Homo sapiens: one gene and its partner. The protein of the gene in region 2 purifies or fractionates together with the protein of the main gene of each other region. This does not show direct contact. Each region holds a gene or a part of one and is shown on either strand. Other genes may lie near its edges.

Region 1 (3,500 bases), on a different chromosome or scaffold from region 2:
TGCAGCTTTGTGGTTAGTGATGCTGGGGCCTGCCAGACTGAATTCAGCATTGGTTTTTAACCAGAGGGCAAGCAGTTGGTCACAGAATACTTTTAGAAACTTATTCTGTCTGACCAGGTGACCAGCGACTGGTAGATCATGAGAGTAGGACCAGCTGCCGAAAACACTGGCAACCGCTGTCACATTACAGGCAGTAGAGAAACAAAGAATATTTGAGCTGCTGTAGATAATTTAGTGGTCCCTGTGGCTATGACTTAATCCAACACCTTCATTTTACATATGAGGAAACTGAGGCAGGATATGACTTGACCGAGGCCATAGGCACTGAAATGATAACTGCCAACATGTACCAAACTCTAGTCTAAATATTAAAACTCATCTAATAATTATGACAACCCACCCAGGCCCCATTTTATAAATGAGAAAACTGAGGCTGAGAAAGGTTATGGAACAAGGTCAGTGATACCAGCTTGTTGGTGAAAGAGTCTGGCTCCAGGACTATGACACTCGAGTACCCTCTGGACCAGCCCACATCTCCCTCTTCCTATTTCCCACATGGCCCTCCTGGTCTGCTAGGAGCTCCCCGCTACCCTGACAGCCCCTTGAGCTGACCCAAAAGGCATCTACCTGGGTCTTCATGGTGTTCTGTGTAGACACAAAGAGCTCCATCTCCCCTGCCTCGCCTTTTGGAACAGCAATGGTGCAGTGAGTCTCCAGGTAGAAGTGCTCTTGGCCACCGATGTATATCTCCCCTGGGGAAGCAGTGAGATCCCTCACAGTGAGCCCAATGCTGCAGAAGGGGCCAGCTTGCCTAAGGAGAGAGTATACTCTGCCAAGTGGTCTGGGCAGGAAGCAATGGCTACCTGAGGGGTAACCTCAAGGTTTCCCACTTGGGGTGGAAAAGGATCCCAAAGTCTTAGCTATCTGGGAGCTGAGTGCTCCAGCCTCATCCCCACCCCCACAACAAAGAAAGAACGACACTGAAATGCATCCAGTCCAAAGTTCTCTTCTCACTGCAGCTTATGGAAATCAAGGATTTCAAAAACCATCATTGTAAAATTTTGGAAAAAGTAAAGCAGGGATTAATAGATGTGATTGAAACACTGAAAACCAGCGCATGTTCCCGAACCTAAGCTACCAGGCCTGGTGGAGAGTCGGCTTCATACCAGGCTTGTTGGAGAGTTGGCTTCATAGTGACTTTGCAAAGCACAACAGCCAATGTAAAAAACAGTTCCAAAAGAGGTAGTCAGCTGTGTTGTCCTGGGGTGGGAGCAATGGATTTGATTTCACAGTGTCAGAGACAGAGGTGGAGGGAGAGCAGGGCAAAGGGAAGAGGAGGGAGGATGCTAGTTGAAGATGGGTAAGGACTGCCTTCAGGTAGGGGGAGGATGAGAATTTATGCGGTTAGAGGCCTGGCAGACCTAAGGCTGTCAGGCATATGTGGCTGTTATCATCCCTAGTTGGTCTTCCGGATCAGAATACTCTAGAATCTCTCTAGAATCATTAGGTCCAGCCTAGAGACAGGAGAGTAGAGATTAAGATAACTGAAGCTCTTTCCCATCCAACTGTCTCCTATTTTGCTACAAACGTAAGAGGGAATCTTCTGTCAGGAAATGTCCAGAAATCACTTCCCTGCTTCAGGGTTCAATGCATATCTCTTGAATTTAATTTGCAAACCAGGGCCACCCCATTCCCACTGCGGCATGGAACAGCTCTACCTGACACAACATTATCTGCTTCGGAAAACCCCTTCTTTAGGTCCCCTTTCTCGATCTTCAGCTCAGGTCCATAAAAGGAGTTGTTCTTTATAGCATCCTGAGGATCACAAAGAAGTTTCAGAAATGTGGCTTTTAGCAGGGAGGGAAAGATAGGTTCTGATTAGGGAAAGAGAAGCTCTCTGAATTGTTGACTCTCTCTTTCCATAAATGAATCTCTATATGCTTCACATACAGACTTGAAGTAAGCTCTACTATAGCCCAGAGAATCATATTCCTCCATTTCCTCAGCTGTAGGTGGACAACCCTGGACCTTGAGGAAAAGCAAAGAATACCACAAGGACCAGATGGAGGTAAAATTTTGAGAAGGAGGAACTCAGTTTGGCTGTTGTTAGTGGACTGGGCATAAGATCATAAAGGGGAAGGTTTCATGGGACCCCAAATCCCAGGGTTGAAAGGGATTTAAAAACCCATCTAGTCAAATCCCTACCTGCTGCTCAAATCCCCTCCAGGGGATCCTAATACATGCACATCCAGGGACGGGGAGCTCACTCCTCTACACAGGCAGCCCATTCTCAGTTACCTCAATTGTGATAATGGCTGGTAGTTCTTCATAGGTGATTTTCACCCCTTGGGCAGCTCTCTGTGTGTGTTCCGGGGTGTCAGCAACCACAGCACCAATGATATGCCCAACACAAGTAACCTAGTAGCAGAGACAGACTGTTAAAGAACGCAACCAGGCTCATGGTGAAACAAATTATTTTTGGATTGTTCAAAAAGCCAAAAGAAGTCCCTGCCCTCACAATCAAAGCACACTTTAGGAATGCCCTAGGGCCTCTTAATTTCCTTATCCTACTGATTGAGGATCACTAGGATCAAGATGGCAAACACATTTCATCTCAAGGGCCAATTCTGAGTATTTAGTACTGGCAGACTATTGAGAAGCTGAACCAGATAGAATGTGGCAATTGATTCCTTGTTTGCCATGAGCAGAAAGGGGGATATGGCACCAGGAAGTGCATTTGTCAATTCGGATTCACTCCAACACCATTGGTCTTCCTATGGAGACTCAGAAGGCAAGGCCACATTTGGCTAGTTACTATTGACAGATCATGACTAACCTTAGGCCCTGACCCCCAGTTTTATTTTCTTTTCACCTCACCACTCTCTTTTATGTTCTATTTCCCAGATTTATACCAAAAGCTTCTCAAAGGCTGTAAAGGCTGTAAGCATCAATATAAGGCCTGTAAGACACGTACTTACAAGACATGATACTTTAAGTATCATGTCTTATACTTCAACTAATACCCAAAAGCAGTAGCTCTCAAATACTGGTTCTTAGACTTGATGACCCATAAAAATATTTTTAAAAATTTATATGATAATGATTGTTGTTTTATTTTGTTTAATAATTCAGTTTCATAAAAGCTTAATGGATCTCCTTCAGAGATAATTGTCATCCAACATCCCCGAAAAAGTAAACAACAAAAAATTTTTGTACAACACATCACTTTAGAAGATGAAGTTTCTGACAATAGGAACCAACAATTAGTATGCATGTCTCTGATAATTATCTCTTATGGCCCAAATAAGCTATTGACTCAGTTGGTTAGTGCAATGGTGGTTAAATCTGGCTGTTGGTTATTGCAATGGTGGTTAAATCTGGCTGACTTTCACTAGCCATAATGCTAGCACTGCTCTGAGAAGCTCTTAAAGTATGTAAAGCAATTTGTTCTTCTATGAAATGCTCTCCTCATGGAGTCTTTGTTCTCATATTTTTAGTTT
Region 2 (3,500 bases):
CTTCAAAAACAACTTACATTTCAAGAAGAGAGAAATTCCATTTTGACAACTATACTCACGAAGATACTTCTAGTCCTCAGAGTAGGCCTTTGGCTTCGGATTTGAAAGGTACGCAAGTCCTGGTAGATTAGTAGAGATGTGTTTAAGATTCTTTTAGCCTATTGGGCACTACAGAGTACAGAAATAAGGAGGAAACTTTAAAATGAATACAATTTTGTTTTGTAAAATTTGTATCCAATTTATTATACAGTGAAATTATTTAGGAATTTTTTCTAGATAAAATATATATTATTTTGTTTATATTATGTGCATTGTATGTGTACAAACCAAGTTTGGCAGTGAGCAAGAGGGAGTTAATTATTATTTTAAAGTATAAGTAGCACTCCCACCTTAAAAGAATTCTTTTTTTTTTCCCTAGGAATTCCAAGTAAACTGTATCATTTGCTTCCATCCAAGATATATAAATAAACTGCTAAAATCAATGTTTCAAAACCTTTGTCCAAGTACTTTTTCCCCCCACAAAATAATTTTAAATTATGTGATTACATTAACCTGGTAATTGATTAGACTAGTTTTTAAAATTAGAAATTGGAATTAAGTATATATTTTATACTGTCAAGAACGGTGGCGAATCTGAGATTTTACCCAACTAGTAAGCTCATATTTTAGCCTGCCACAGTTTTGTGGGTTCTAGTGGAAGTCACAAGACTCCTGAGCGAGAGATTAAGGAGAGTTTGTTACAATAGCAGGAGCCAGGGAATCAGCATGTTTGCATTGGTTGTCCAAGCCCCAGTTTCTACAGGCAGTGTAAAGAGGATCACACAGTGGATTGCATTACAGGAGAGAGTGAGCTTAGAAACCCGAGTATTATAACGGATAGTAAGATGCCTGCCCTTTCCTGTAGGTGGAAACAATACACATGCCTGCCCTGGCTCCAGAGGAAACACAATCTCTAGCTTCCAAGGTTGCAAGCACACCTGTTCTGTGCTCCAGAGACACTCTGTCTTCCAAGACTGCTATTCAAATATTCCTTGTTGAATTCTGTCCAAAGCTTTTTCTACATTTATTGGAGGTGATCCTGGTTTTTCTCCTTTAATCTGTTAATATGGTAAATTATGTTAATTTTGAAACACTAACCTTGAATTCCTGGGATAAACTCCACTGGGTGATGTTGTATTATTCTTTTAATATACATTCCTGGATTCAATTTGGTAATATTTTGTTAAGGATTTCTGCTTCTGTATTCAGAAGGATGTTGGTCTGTATTATTTTCTTGTAATGTCTTTGTCTGGCTTTGGCATCAGGAAAATCCTGTTGGGAAGTGTTTCCCCTCCTCTATTTTCTGAATTTGTGTAGGATTGGTATTATTAATATTATTCCTTCCTTAAATATTTAAATATGTAATACTCATACATATTTGTAAAATATATAATATGTAAATATTCACCAGAGGGCCTGGATTTTTCTAAATGGGAAGGTTTTACATTGCTAAATGATTTCTATTAATATAGAACTACTCAGATTTTCTATTTCTTGAGTTAGAGTTGACAATTTTGTATGTTCTGAGGAATTTGTACATTTCATGTAAGTTCTCAAATGTATTGTCACAAAGTTGTTCATAATATTCCTTATTAGCATTTTAACGTTCAAAGGACTTGTAGCGATGTCCCCTCTTTAATTTCTGACATTGGTAATTTGGGGATTCTTTTTTCTTTATTATTCTTGCTAGAGTTTTACCAATTTTATTTTTCTTTTCAAAAAATCAGCTTATTATTTCATTGATTTTTCTTGCTGCTTTGTTTTTTTCTTCCATTGATTTCTGTTCCTATTTAGTAATTTCATTCCTTTGGGTCGTCTGGTGCTACTTGGCTCCTTCCCTAGTTTCGTACCTGCATTAATAGCATCACAGAGTCTGGTATGTTTTCATTTTCATTCAGTTCAAAATACTTTCTTTTTCACTTGTGATTTATTCTTTGACCCAATGGATTGGAAGTGAGTTGCTTGATTTCTAAATGTTTGGAGATTTTCAGTTATTTTTCTTTTATTGATTTCTAATTTAATTCTGTTTTGATCAGAGAACATAATCTTTTTTAATTTATTGAGACTTGTTTTATTGCCCAGAATAAGGTCTGTCTTGGTTGATGTTTCAGGTGAACTGGAGTGTTCTATAAATGTCAACTGAGTAAACGTGGTTGACAGGTTTGAGCAAATCTATATCTGTACTGATCTTGTGTCTGCTTGTTCTAACAGTTACTGATAGAGGAACAGAGAAGTTGATTTGTTCATTCTATAAATTTGTTTAGTGTGTTTTAAAGCTCTTTTAATTTTTATTATTAATATTTTTTTTTTGAGATGGAGTCTCACTGTTGTCAGCCCGGGCTGGAGTGCAATGGAACAATCTCAGCTCACTGCAACCTCCACCTCCTGGGTTCCAGCAATTCTCCTGCCTCAGCCTCCCGAGTAGCTGAGATTACAGGCGCCTACTACCATGCCCGGCTAATTTTTGTATTTTTAGTAAAGACGGGGTTTCACCATGTTGGCCAGACTCAGTCAAACTCCTGACCTCAGGTGATCCACCTGCCTCGGCCTCCCAAAGTGCTGGGATTACAGGCATAAGCCACCGCGCCTGGCCAAAGCTCTTTTATGTATGCATACACATTTAGCACTATTATGTCCAGTTGGTAAACTGATACCTTTATTATTATGAAATAACCTTCATTATCCCTAGGGGTATTCCTTGTTCTAAAGTCTCTGATATTGATATAGCCCCTCTAGTTGTCTTTAGATTGGTATTTGCATAGTATATCTTTTTGCATCCTTTTATATTTATTTTGTAATGATGAATCAGTAGGAGAAACTCTGAATAGTTAAATAATAAATATATACCATGAAAATGGATTACTAAATCCTGAAAATCAAATATAAATCAAAGAACTAAAGTATTAAGAAAATAACTAATGGTGAGCACTATATCCATTTAAATACAAAATTAAGATTAAAGAACTGTTTGAATTATGGTTACAAAATAGAGTGTTAGTGTTAAAAAAACATTGACAATATAAAACAAACAATATAACTAAAAAGTTAGGTGCATCCTTTTACTTTTAACCTACCTTTGTCTATTTTGTTTACTGCTGAATCCCAGTGTCCAGAACCATGCCTGGAATATAGCAGACACTCAACATCTGTTAAGTGAATGATGAATGAACAGGCTGCCATTACACTAGAATATTAGGCAGAGGCTGGGCATTCACCTTGTACGAACATTATAAAGAGTTTTAAGTATCAAGAAGTTTAGACAAAATTAGCTGGGTGGGGTGGTACATACCTGTAGTCCCAGCTACTCAGGAGGCTGAGGTAGGAGGATCGCTTGACCCCAGGAGTTTGAGGCTGCAGTGAGCTATAATTGTGCCACTGCACTCCAGCCTGGGTGACAGAATGAGACCCCATCTGTTAACAACAACAGCAAAGCTTAGACAAGATGACATTTTAGGTCACTT

The links. The genes of interacting proteins can lie anywhere in the genome.
Region 1: the proteins of CCDC110 (region 2) and XDH purify together in Homo sapiens (affinity purification with mass spectrometry; one large-scale study listed by BioGRID and IntAct). This does not show direct contact.

The regions. Positions count from the first base shown.
Region 1 is NC_000002.12:31,366,243-31,369,742, forward strand, and holds part of XDH (xanthine dehydrogenase/oxidase), read right to left. Parts: intron 2,419-3,500; coding exon 2,299-2,418; intron 1,816-2,298; coding exon 1,719-1,815; intron 753-1,718; coding exon 628-752; intron 1-627. UniProt on the Homo sapiens protein: Key enzyme in purine degradation. Catalyzes the oxidation of hypoxanthine to xanthine. Catalyzes the oxidation of xanthine to uric acid. Contributes to the generation of reactive oxygen species. Has also low oxidase activity towards aldehydes (in vitro).
Region 2 is NC_000004.12:185,454,734-185,458,233, reverse strand, and holds part of CCDC110 (coiled-coil domain-containing protein 110), read left to right. Parts: coding exon 1-108; intron 109-418; coding exon of another isoform or gene 419-468; exon of another isoform or gene 469-492; intron 493-904; coding exon of another isoform or gene 905-1,038; exon of another isoform or gene 1,039-1,833; coding exon of another isoform or gene 1,834-1,898; exon of another isoform or gene 1,899-1,915; intron 1,916-3,500.